Regions from separate parts of the Homo sapiens genome. Here region 2 is linked to region 1. Evidence: fine-mapped expression QTL. A gene starts in region 1. The other region holds a variant in brackets. All regions are shown on one strand. Distances are from middle to middle. Region 1 holds the start of GDF9 (growth differentiation factor 9). Region 2 holds the start of LOC124901190 (U7 small nuclear RNA).

Evidence for each region. PIP is the estimated chance that this variant, and not a neighbour inherited with it, causes the effect.
Region 2: its variant is fine-mapped to the expression of GDF9 in prefrontal cortex (BrainSeq, PIP 0.95).

The regions. Positions count from the first base shown.
Region 1 is chr5:132,864,082-132,869,081 of GRCh38, forward strand. GDF9 (growth differentiation factor 9) reads right to left here and starts at 2,388. Exons shown (of 2, transcript NM_005260.7): 1 at 56-2,388. The coding sequence starts at 452. It overlaps UQCRQ (ubiquinol-cytochrome c reductase complex III subunit VII), which reads left to right and starts at 2,561. Exons shown (of 3, transcript NM_014402.5): 1 at 2,561-2,606; 2 at 2,788-2,954; 3 at 3,407-4,766. The coding sequence starts at 2,801. The coding sequence ends at 3,501. RefSeq lists enhancers at 1,840-3,039, 1,898-2,398, 2,399-2,899.
Region 2 is chr5:132,841,120-132,846,644 of GRCh38, forward strand. LOC124901190 (U7 small nuclear RNA) reads right to left here and starts at 188; the gene lies at 129-188. It also overlaps the pseudogene RNU7-15P. The variant T/TAC (reference allele first, on the strand shown) is at 2,929.

The DNA of each region.
Region 1 (5,000 bases):
GCAGAAGTGTCTATCATCTTCCCTCCACCCAGTTAACCAATCTGCTTTCACATACCTGTTACCTGGTCTCCAGGAGCCTGCTTGTGCCGGGTACAGGGGGTGAAGAGCCGAACAGTGTTGTAGAGGTGACTTCTATTGGATTTAGGAATCCCTTCCTTGGTAGCATATGTCTTATAGAGCTTCTTCATGTAGTGCAAAGCTCTGGAGTCTGGCTGCAGCCTAGGTGACCCACCTCGCCCAACAGATAGAACTTTGAAAAGCGCGGGAAGGAGGCCAGCTCTGTCTCTCTCATCTATATGCTGCAGCAAGGACCAAGGCATAGCCCCAGATTCCAACTCAGCACTAGCAGCAATCTGAGCTTCTCCCCCAGAAGCCTGAGAACCAAGGCTAATAGGAAAACACAGCCAGGCAAAGCAGCAAAACCAAAGGAGGAATTTGTTGGGACGTGCCATGGCTTGGGAGAACTAGTGAGGAACATATTTCTCCATGCCAGTCCTCTTCCTAAAGGCCAGGAAGAGCCTAGCTTGGTCTCTTAAATAAATTTCAGGTGTGTGGGTGGACTACGGTCACTTCTGTAATCAGGCCTCAAGTATGCCTAGCTGAAGATTTTATCAGCTCTATATCAAGCAGCTGATAACACCTTATTTAGCCAATTTGTTAATTAGATACAGATTTACTTGGTTATTTAGCTTTCCTCTCTTTTCCCCTGGCATTTACGTAAAACCCGTTACTGTTACACTACCGGACTAACTATGTAGCTGAAAGTCTAAGATAAATTGAGGAATGATCTTAAATAAAATCTCTCATTTTTTGAGAAATTTGGATTAAGATGTTCGCTAGGTGCTTGCTGAAACTTCTAAGGCATGTGGAAAAGCTAACCAATTATTCATGACGATACTCAGATCTGCTGGTATGCAACTTATGGTATTAGGTTTACTCTTCCTCTCAATTTATCCTCACGGCCTTTTCCACTTCCAGGTGTTTACAATTGTAATTATTCGCTGCATGTTAATTTGCGAATTTACAAATTTGGGTGAGAAAGTCACAATTGGCATAGAAGTTCCAGAAAGCAGAAAACCATTAGGTCTCTCAGTCCTCCCAGGTGGCTGGGTACAGAATACGTACTTGGAGTACTGGAATTGTATTTGCGATGTTCTTAAAAGAGGACACCGCCTTTAACCTTGACTTATTTTTAAATGTAACATACTGATGTCCTTACTTTGGTCTGCACACTCATCTATACATATTTTGGTTGAAAGGTTTTGGGATGTTTGCAGATGCTATAAAATAAATGAACGTTTTATTATTATTCATCCAAATGGTGGTAGAATTTGCCACAATATTTCTGTCCTTACCTGTATTTCTGTTCTTGCCTTGGAGCTGAGACCAGGCTAGACATTATGGTTTAAAAAAATGAGGCAAAGGAGCACCATGAAAAGCTGAAATGAGGGGATATTCAGCGCCACCCCGAAGGAGACTATGCTGGAAGAGTCAGCCTACACTCATAGTGCAAGATACGAAGCCAGTTTGTGCAGTACCTACATGAGAAAACTAAGGTATGTCTGCAAAATACAAGTTGACTGCCTGCCGAGCCTCCGTGGTCCGTAAGTAGTGTTATAAAACACAGCCAACTGTTGAATGAGAGCTTAGTCCTAGATAAAATATGGCCAGCAATTCCATTAACAAAACACTGACAAGACACCTCAGGGCGAGCTGTACATTGACAACAGCATCGTCAAGCAGAATGCACTTCAGGGAAAACATAATAAGGCCTCTCACCCGACTTTCCTTGCTTCTCACGTGGGGAGAAGAAAGAACTGGGGCATCGTGATTCCCCCCACCCCACGCAAACCATCTGGGGAGGACGCTGGCTGCTGTCGAGGCGGCCTCAGCATTCATCAATTGACGATTATTTGATTATTTTTGTGGCTGAAACTGACGAAACGTTTGTATTATCTCTTGGGAACGTTAACAGCCTGCCAGGGGACTCTAAAACAGAGTCCAAGAGAAGCCTTCGATGTGTGTCCCTGATTTTGGTGCTGGGGTCGCTCATGGCCTGAAAATAACGAAGCCCCCTTTGAGCTACTGGCCAAGGCCAAATGAAACCTCGTGCTCCTCTGCTGTGGGGCGGCCCGGCCTCGGGGCTCAGAGGCGCTCTGTCTACAGCTGGGAAGACTCGCAGGCCCCAAGCTCCTGGCCAGCGCTGCCCCGGAGGTCGGCAGGCCCCTTCCTCGTCACCTTTTTGTTCCCTCCCCCGCCTCCCGCATTCGGCCGCTTCCTGACTGGGATTCCACAGAAAAGCCGAGGGCTGAGGAGAAGTGTGAGCGCCTCCGCCTGTCCACTGTCCCCCAAAGTCAGTTCAATCCCCGACGTCCTCCGCTAGGCTCCACCCCACCGGCCCGGGCAGGGCCTCCAAGGCACCTCCCACCTACGGGTCACCCAGTCAGCCCACTTCTTTCTGGGACAAAGGCGTCATCCCTTAGAGACAGTAGGAAAATGGTATCTCCCGGAAGTTACCTCACGACCTCCAAGAGCGGCTTCCAACCTTGCCGGAAATGACGAACGAGTCAACCGGATCGGTGACTGTGGAGGGCGAGCTGAGCCCTGTGCGTGAGTGGGGTCTGGTTGTGCAGTGTTCGTGGACCCTGGGAGGCTAGGGGCGCCCCGCTGGGCTGGGAAAGGATAAGGAGTGCAGGGGCAGGAGTCTGGGGTTGGGGATGGACCCCCGCGGGGACTGCGGCGCTTCGCGAAAGCGAGCCAAGCGCCTGTCCACCCTCGGTCCTGCAGGGCCGCCGCCACAATGGGCCGCGAGTTTGGGAATCTGACGCGGATGCGGCATGTGATCAGCTACAGCTTGTCACCGTTCGAGCAGCGCGCCTATCCGCACGTCTTCACTAAAGGAATCCCCAATGTTCTGCGCCGCATTCGGGAGTCTTTCTTTCGCGTGGTGCCGCGTGAGTGCCTTGGGCCCGCGGGAGCGGGAGGCTGGACCCCAGCAGCAGCAGCAGTCACTGCGCCTCCCCTCTGAGCGCTGGCGGCCGGGCAGGCGCTCTGTAACTTGCCGTACACACCTTTCTCATTGAATATTCCTGACCGCCCTTAAGCTGGTCATATTATCCTCCCCATCTTACACGGGGAAAACTGAGCTACAGAACTGAAATGACTGGCCCAAGGTCACTCGGGTGATTCCAGCATGTTCCTCTGAGGTCACCTTTATTTAGTTCTTACCAGTGGTGAAATGCTTTGTGTTAAACGTGCAGCAGATAGTGATGATAGTTGCATGGCCTTGGATATGCTAAGAACTACTGAAGTGTATGCTTTAAAGAAGACAAGAGGACTGAGACCTTTTTTTTTCTTCTATATGTCTTATATGTGTGCTCTCTGTTTACTCTCTTAATTTTTAAAGAGTTTGTAGTGTTTTATCTTATCTACACATGGGGGACTGAAGAGTTCGAGAGATCCAAGAGGAAGAATCCAGCTGCCTATGAAAATGACAAATGAGCAACGCATCCGGATGACGGTTCCCTGTCTCTGAAAGACCTTTCTCTGGAAGAGGAGTCTGCATTGTAGTGTCTCAAAGACACAATAAACTTCCTATGGTCTGCACTGTTGTGATATTACATTTTTGTGAGTAGAATCCTGTGTGACCACTAATATTCAAGTTCATGAAGCGCCCCTCCTCAGCATGAGTCTTGAAGTTTTGCCTGGTCTCGGGTTTTGGTGAAAGAGCAGGGCTCCCCCTTTGTTCCATTATCTACAAGAAAGTAGCTGCAGGTACTCCTGCATCTAACCATTTGTGGGTGACATGGGCTATGGCGAGTGCTGGTTCTTGGCCCTCTGCTCCCATAGCAACAATAAAGTCTACTAACTATATTGTAATTAGTATGTGTCAGGGACGCTTTTATTTTTTATTTTTTGAGATGGAGTCTTGCTCTCTCACCCAGGCTGGAGTGCAGTGGTGTGATCTCGGCTCACTGCCATCTGTGCCTCCTGGGTTCAAACGATTCTCCTGTCTCAGCCTCCGAGTAGCTGGGATTACAGGTGCAGGACACCACACCTGGCTAATTTTTTGTATTTTTAGTAGAGACAGGTTTCACCATGTTGGCCAGGCTGGTCTGGAACTCCTGACCTCAGATGATCTGTGCGCCTCAGCCTCCCAAAGTGCTGGGATTACAGGCGTAAGCCATGGTGCTCTGGGCCTCAAATACTCTTCTTAGCTACACAAATGAACTGTTAAACCTCACAAGCACCTTTAACGTATCCTCATTTGGCAGATGAGGAAATGGGCACAGAGAGATTAAGTAATTTGCCAGAAATTATACAGCAGTGAATGGTGGAGTCTTGCACTAAAGTGATGCTCTTAAAACTATGCTCTATTGCAGGGGTGTCCAATCTTTTAGCTTCCCTGGGCCACACATAAAATACGCTAACATTACAATAGCTGATAAGCTTTAAAAAATGGCAAAAAAAACCCTCAGCGTTTTAGAAAGTTTACAAATTTTTGTTGGGTCGGATTCAAAGCCATCCTGGGCTGCTTGCTGCCCAGGACTGCGGTTGGACAAGCTTGCTCTACTGCCTTTCCTCCTAAGGCAGGCCTTAGCCTGAGGGGATATCAGCTATAAAACGGATGAGGTGATCTCTTAGCCTCCACAGCAGTTTTCTGTTTCTGTGCCAGGAGGCCAACAATGTTTTCAACCATATGTGGTTCATAAAGCCTCAAAGATTTACTCTGGCCCTTTATGAATAAAGTTTACCCCTGATCTAAAGCCTTTAAATTATCTTTTTGGTATTAAAGATACCATTTTCCCTTCGCCCACCGAGAGATGGTGGGGGTAGGTGTGGTTGGCAGTTTTATGCCTCTAGTTCCTTAGAGAGGCTTCTCTCTAAGCTTCGGGACATGGATCTCACCTGTGGTAGCAGGTATGTGGAATATGATGAGTTGTCATAGCTCAGTCAGTACAGTATATGCTATGGGATCTGAGATCCGTTTTTAGAAACTC
Region 2 (5,525 bases), 23 kb before region 1:
CTTCCACCAAGAGCCATTGCTGACAGCCCCTCTCTGCCCTGGCATCAGCCAGGGCCTGATGGCTCTGTCCATGAGCAGACTCATTGTCAGCCCTCACTTGGGGAACTGACTTTTTTGTTTAACTTTTTTGGGGCTTTCTGGCAAAAACCAGAAAGCCTGCTAGACAAATTCTAAGAGCTGTAACACTGGGAACCAACTTTTTTTTTTTTTTTTGAGACAGAGTCTTGCCCCGTTGCCCAGCCTGGAGTGCAGTGGCGAAATCTCAGCTCACTGCAACCTCCGCTTACTGGATTCAAGTGATTCTCCTGCCTCAGGCTTCCAAGTGGCTGGGATTACAGGCATGAGTCACCATGCCCGGCTAATTTTTTGTACTTTTGGTAGAGACAAGGTTTCACCATGTTGGTCCCAAACTCCTGACCTCAAGTGATCCACCCTCCTTGAACCAACTTCTAAAAAAACATTAGACCCTGGGGCCAGTCATTTCCTTCAAGTCACCACACTTCCTATATCACTCTCTCCTCTTGGTGGTTTTGACAAAAAGATGTGACTTGCCATACCCTAAGAAGCTGCTTTCTTTTCAGAGCAGATTGCTTTGGTCACTCACTTGGGCACAGCAATGAGAGGTCTAGGGAGGTGCTGCCATGAATGGAAGCAAGGACTTTCAAGAGAGTTCATTTGGACCCCATTCTTTTCTTTTTTTTTTTTTTTGGCAGAGTTTCACTCTTGTCGCCCAGGTTGGAGTACAGTGGCGCAATCTCAGCTCACTGCAACATTTGCCTCCCGGGTTCAAGTGATTCTTCCGCCTCAGCTTCCGGAGTAGCTGAGATTACAGGCATGCACCACCACGCCACGCTGATTTTAGTATTTTTAGTGGAGACGGGTTTTCACCATGTTGGCCAGGTTGGTCTCGAACTCCTGACCTCAGGTGATCCACCCACCTCAGCCTCTCAAAGTGCTGGGATTACAGGCATGACCCACCGTGCCCGGCCTAGATCCTCTTTCTTGGTTCTTGGGATTGGATTAATAACCTTTATTAGTGATGGTGGTAGGTCCTTGTTTATAATTATTCTGTGAACAAGCGTTCTTTTCGAAAACTTTATAAGTGCCTGAAAAGGATTAAAAATAGACTGGGCACAGTGGCTCACGCCTATAATCGCAGCACTTTGGGAGGCCGAGGTGGGCGGATCACCTGAGGTCAGGAGTTTGAGACCAGCCTGACCAACATGGAGAAACCCCGTCTCTACTAAAAATACAAAATTAGCTGGGCATGGTGGTGCATGCCTATAATCCCAGCTACTCGGGAGGCTGAGGCAGAAGAATCGCTTGAAACCAGGAGGCGGAGGTTGCAGTGAGCCAAGATCTCACCATTGCACTCCAGCCTGGGCAACAAGAGTGAAACTCCGTCTCAATAATAATAATAATAATAATAATAATAATAATAATAATAAAGCCAAACTGCAACTCTCTGGTCTTCCTGAAATAGTGAATGCTTTCCCTAAATTAGATTTACCTTAGTATGCTTAATAGCTTACAATGCACCAAATAAAAAGACAAACAATTCAATTTTTAAAAATAGACTAAGGATTTGAACAGGAAGAATTTGAATTTCTCGCAAGATCTACAAATAGCCAATAAGCACTAAAAAAGGTGCTCAACCTCAAATTCAACTCAAAAGCACAATTAGGTACCACTTCATACCCACTAGAATGGCTATAAGACAAAAAGTCAGATAGTAAGTATTGAGGAGGATATAAAGGAAACCTCACGCACTGCTGCTGGGAGTGTAAAATGATACAACTGACTTGGAAAACTGTTTCTTAGTTCACCAAATGATTAAACAGAAAGTTACCATATGACCCAGCAATTCCACTCTTTGGTCTATCCCCAAGAGAACTGAAAACATATGTTCATGTCAAAACCTGTACGTATGTTTATATCAGCATGATTCATAATAGACAAAAAGTGGAAACGACCTAAATGGCCACCAACAGATTAATGAATAAATAAAATCTGGTATATCTATACAATGGAATATTATTCAGCCATAAAAAGAAATGAAGTGCTGACATGTACTACAACGTGTGGACCTCGAGAACATTATGCTAAGTGAAAGAAAACGGACAAAACCCCACGTATTATTCCATGTATATGAAATGTCCAGAATGGGCAAATCCACAGAGAAAGAAGGGATGAGAAGTGACTATTAAATGGTACGAGGCCTCTTTGGGTGATGACAGAAATGTTCATCTCTAGGCCCCATCTCTAGATAGTGGGATAATTATAAAATCTTGTGACTAGGCTGGGTGTGGTGGCTTAAGCCTGAAATCCCAGCACTTTGGGAGGCTGAGGCATGAAGACTGCTTGAGCACAGGAGTTTGAGACCAGCCTGGGCAACATAATGAGATGCTGTCCCTATTAAAAAAAATTTTTTTTAATCTTGTGACTATACTAAAGATAACTGAATTTACATTTTTTTTTGAGAGAGAGTTTCACCCTGTTGCCCAGGCTGGAGTGCAGTGGCACGGTCTCGGCTCACTGCAGCCTCTCCCTCCCAGGTTCAAGCGATTCTCCTCCCTCAGCCTCTGGAGTAGCTGGGATGACAGGTGCCTGCCACCATGCCCAGTTAATTTTTTCGTATTTTTAGTAGAGACTGGGTTTCACCATGCTGGCCAGGCTGGTCTTGAACTCCTGGCTTCAAGTGATGCGCCAGCCTCAGCCTCCCAAAGCGCCGGGATTACAGGTATGAGCCACCGTGCAGGGCCTACACTTTTTGTTTTTAGTTGGAGTTTTGCTCTTGTTGCCCAGGCTGGAGTGCAGTGGCGCGATCTCAGCTCACTGAAACCGCCTCTCGGGTTCAAGCAATTCAATTCAAGCAATACATATACACACACACACACACACAAATATATGTATGTATACACGCATACA[T/TAC]ACACACACACACACACACTTAAGAGTTGTCATTGACATTGGCCTATTCTTTATTTTCTTGGAGACAGAGTCTCACTCTGTCGCACAGGCTGGTGCAGTGGTGCGATCTCAGCTCACTACAACCTCCGCCTCCTGGGTTCAAGTAATTCTCGTGCCTCAGCCTCCCAAGAAGCCAGGATTACAGGCACATGCCACCACACCTGGCTAATTTTTGTATTTTTAGCAGAGATGGGATTCTGCCATGTTAACCAGGCTAGTCTCGAACTCCTGGCCTCAAGCAATCCACCCAACTCAGAGTGGTGGAATTACAGGCGTGAGCCACCACACCCGGCCTGACATTGGCCCATTCATGCTCAAGGTCTTCACATACAAAGCAAGAGATGGCTTCTAAGGGTTCTAACCACTCTGATGTTTTAAGCATGTGTCTACAAATGCAGAAAGCAAGCTCAAGTACTCTTGCACTAAATTACTAATTCAGAGCACCTTCTGCCCATAGACCTAAAGGTATCTTGCAAGCCAGGTGATCTCAGGTTTATTTGTGGGCCACAGGCTCAGATGTTAATGTGCCTGCAGATCACATGACTTTTTAAAAATTACCATTGTGTGTAAATTAGTCTACTAATCATTAAAATTAAGAATCTTGGCCGGGCGCTGTGGCTCACACCTGTAATCCCAGCACTTTGGGAGGCCAAGGCGGGAGGATCACCTGAGGTCAGGAGTCCAAGACCAGCCTGGCCAACATGATGAAACCCCGTCTCTACTAAAAATTCAAAAATTAGCCGGGCGTCGGGGTGGGCTCCTGTAATCCCAGCTACTCAGGAGGCTGAGGCAGGAGAATCGCTTGAAACCAGGAGGTGGAGGCTGCAGTAAGCCAAGACTGTACCATTGCACTCCAGCCTGGACACCCAAGAGCGAAACTCCGTCTCAAAAAAGAAAAAAAAAAAGAATCTTTAGCAGTAATACAAAAGGAGTCTGTTCAAAAGTATATAGCCTAGTGCTACCTGTTAACCAACTCTAATCTGATTTGATCATATCATAATGAAAATATTTACATTATCCTCAAAACCTATCAGGTCAAGGCATGTCCCAATCCTGACACCCTGTTTGTATTTACATGGTAGTTCTCAGCTTCATGTTAGCAGTTTCATGAAACAATAAGAACTTTGGCAGAATTAGGTCGAGGTCCTCTTGGTGGGCAGAGTAACATCTCCCTGTATTCTATCAGTTCCTTTGACTTGGATAGGACAGATATTAGACAGCTCTTGAGGACTGCATTCCAAAGGTAGCTGCAGAAAATCAACACATTTCACAGGTGTCTCAGACTGTGCCTCTCTCCCAAATTGTGCCCATTTTCACCAGGGAGAGCTGCAGTTTATCTTATACCATTCATGATTCCACCATGCTTAGGCAGTTCAGTAATGGGAAAGAAGTATATTTGGGTTCGAGACCAGAAAGCTATTTGGGCATGGTGGCATGTGCCTGTTAGGCCCAGCTACTAAGGAGCCCAAGGCAGAAGGATCACTTGAGCCCAGGACTTTAAGACCAGGCTGGACAACACAAGAAGATTCTCTTTCTCTTTAAAAAGAGAGACAGACAGACAGACAGACAGACAGACAGAGAGAGAGACAGAGAAAGCCACTGCATAGGAGGAGGAAATATATTAAATAATAGGCTGGGCACAGTGGCTCATGCCTATAATCGCAGCATTTTGGGAGGCCAAGGTGGGTGGATTACTTGAGCTCAGGGGTTTGAGACCAGCCTGGGCAACATAGCAAGACCTCGCCTCAACTTTAAAAAAAACAAAAAAAATCAGCTGGGCATGGTGGTGCATGCCTATAGTCCCAGCTACTTGGGAAGCTGAAGCGGGAGGATTGCTTGAGCTCAAGAGATCAAGGCTGCAGTGAGCTGTGATCATGCCACTTCGCTCCAGCTTGGGAGACAGAATGAGACTCTGTCTCAAAAAAAAAAAAAGGATAATAAATATATAATGTGTATACATTAGAAGTATCATGAGCCCTACCTTGCAGCAGTATCAGGCAGAGTTTACAATAAAATCGTATGAGGAAGGGACTGTTGCACTGTTCAATAGAAATATGAGCCATATATGTAGTTTAAAGTCAGTTAATAGACATATTTAAAAAGTAGGCCGGGTACAGTGGCTCACGCCTGTAATCCCAGCACTTTGAGAGGCCGAGGCAGGTGGGACACCTGAGGTCAGGAGTTTGAGACCAACCTGGCCGACATGGTGAAACCCCATCTCTACTAAGAATACAAAAAAAATTAGCTGGGCATGATGGCAGATGCCTGTAACCCCAGCTACTCGGGGGGCTGAGGCAGGAGAATTGCTTGAACCCAGAAGGCAGAGGTTGCAGTGAGATCACGCCACTGCACTCCAGCCTGGGCAACAGAGCTAGACCCCATCTTTAAAAAAATAGTAAAAAGGGCTGGGCACGGTGGCTCATGCCTGTAACCCCAGCACTTTGGGAGGCTGAGGCTGGCGCATCACTTGAAGCCAGGAGTTCAAGACCAGCCTGGCCAGCATGGTGAAACCCAGTCTCTACTAAAAATACAAAAAAATTAGCAGGGCGTGGTGGCTC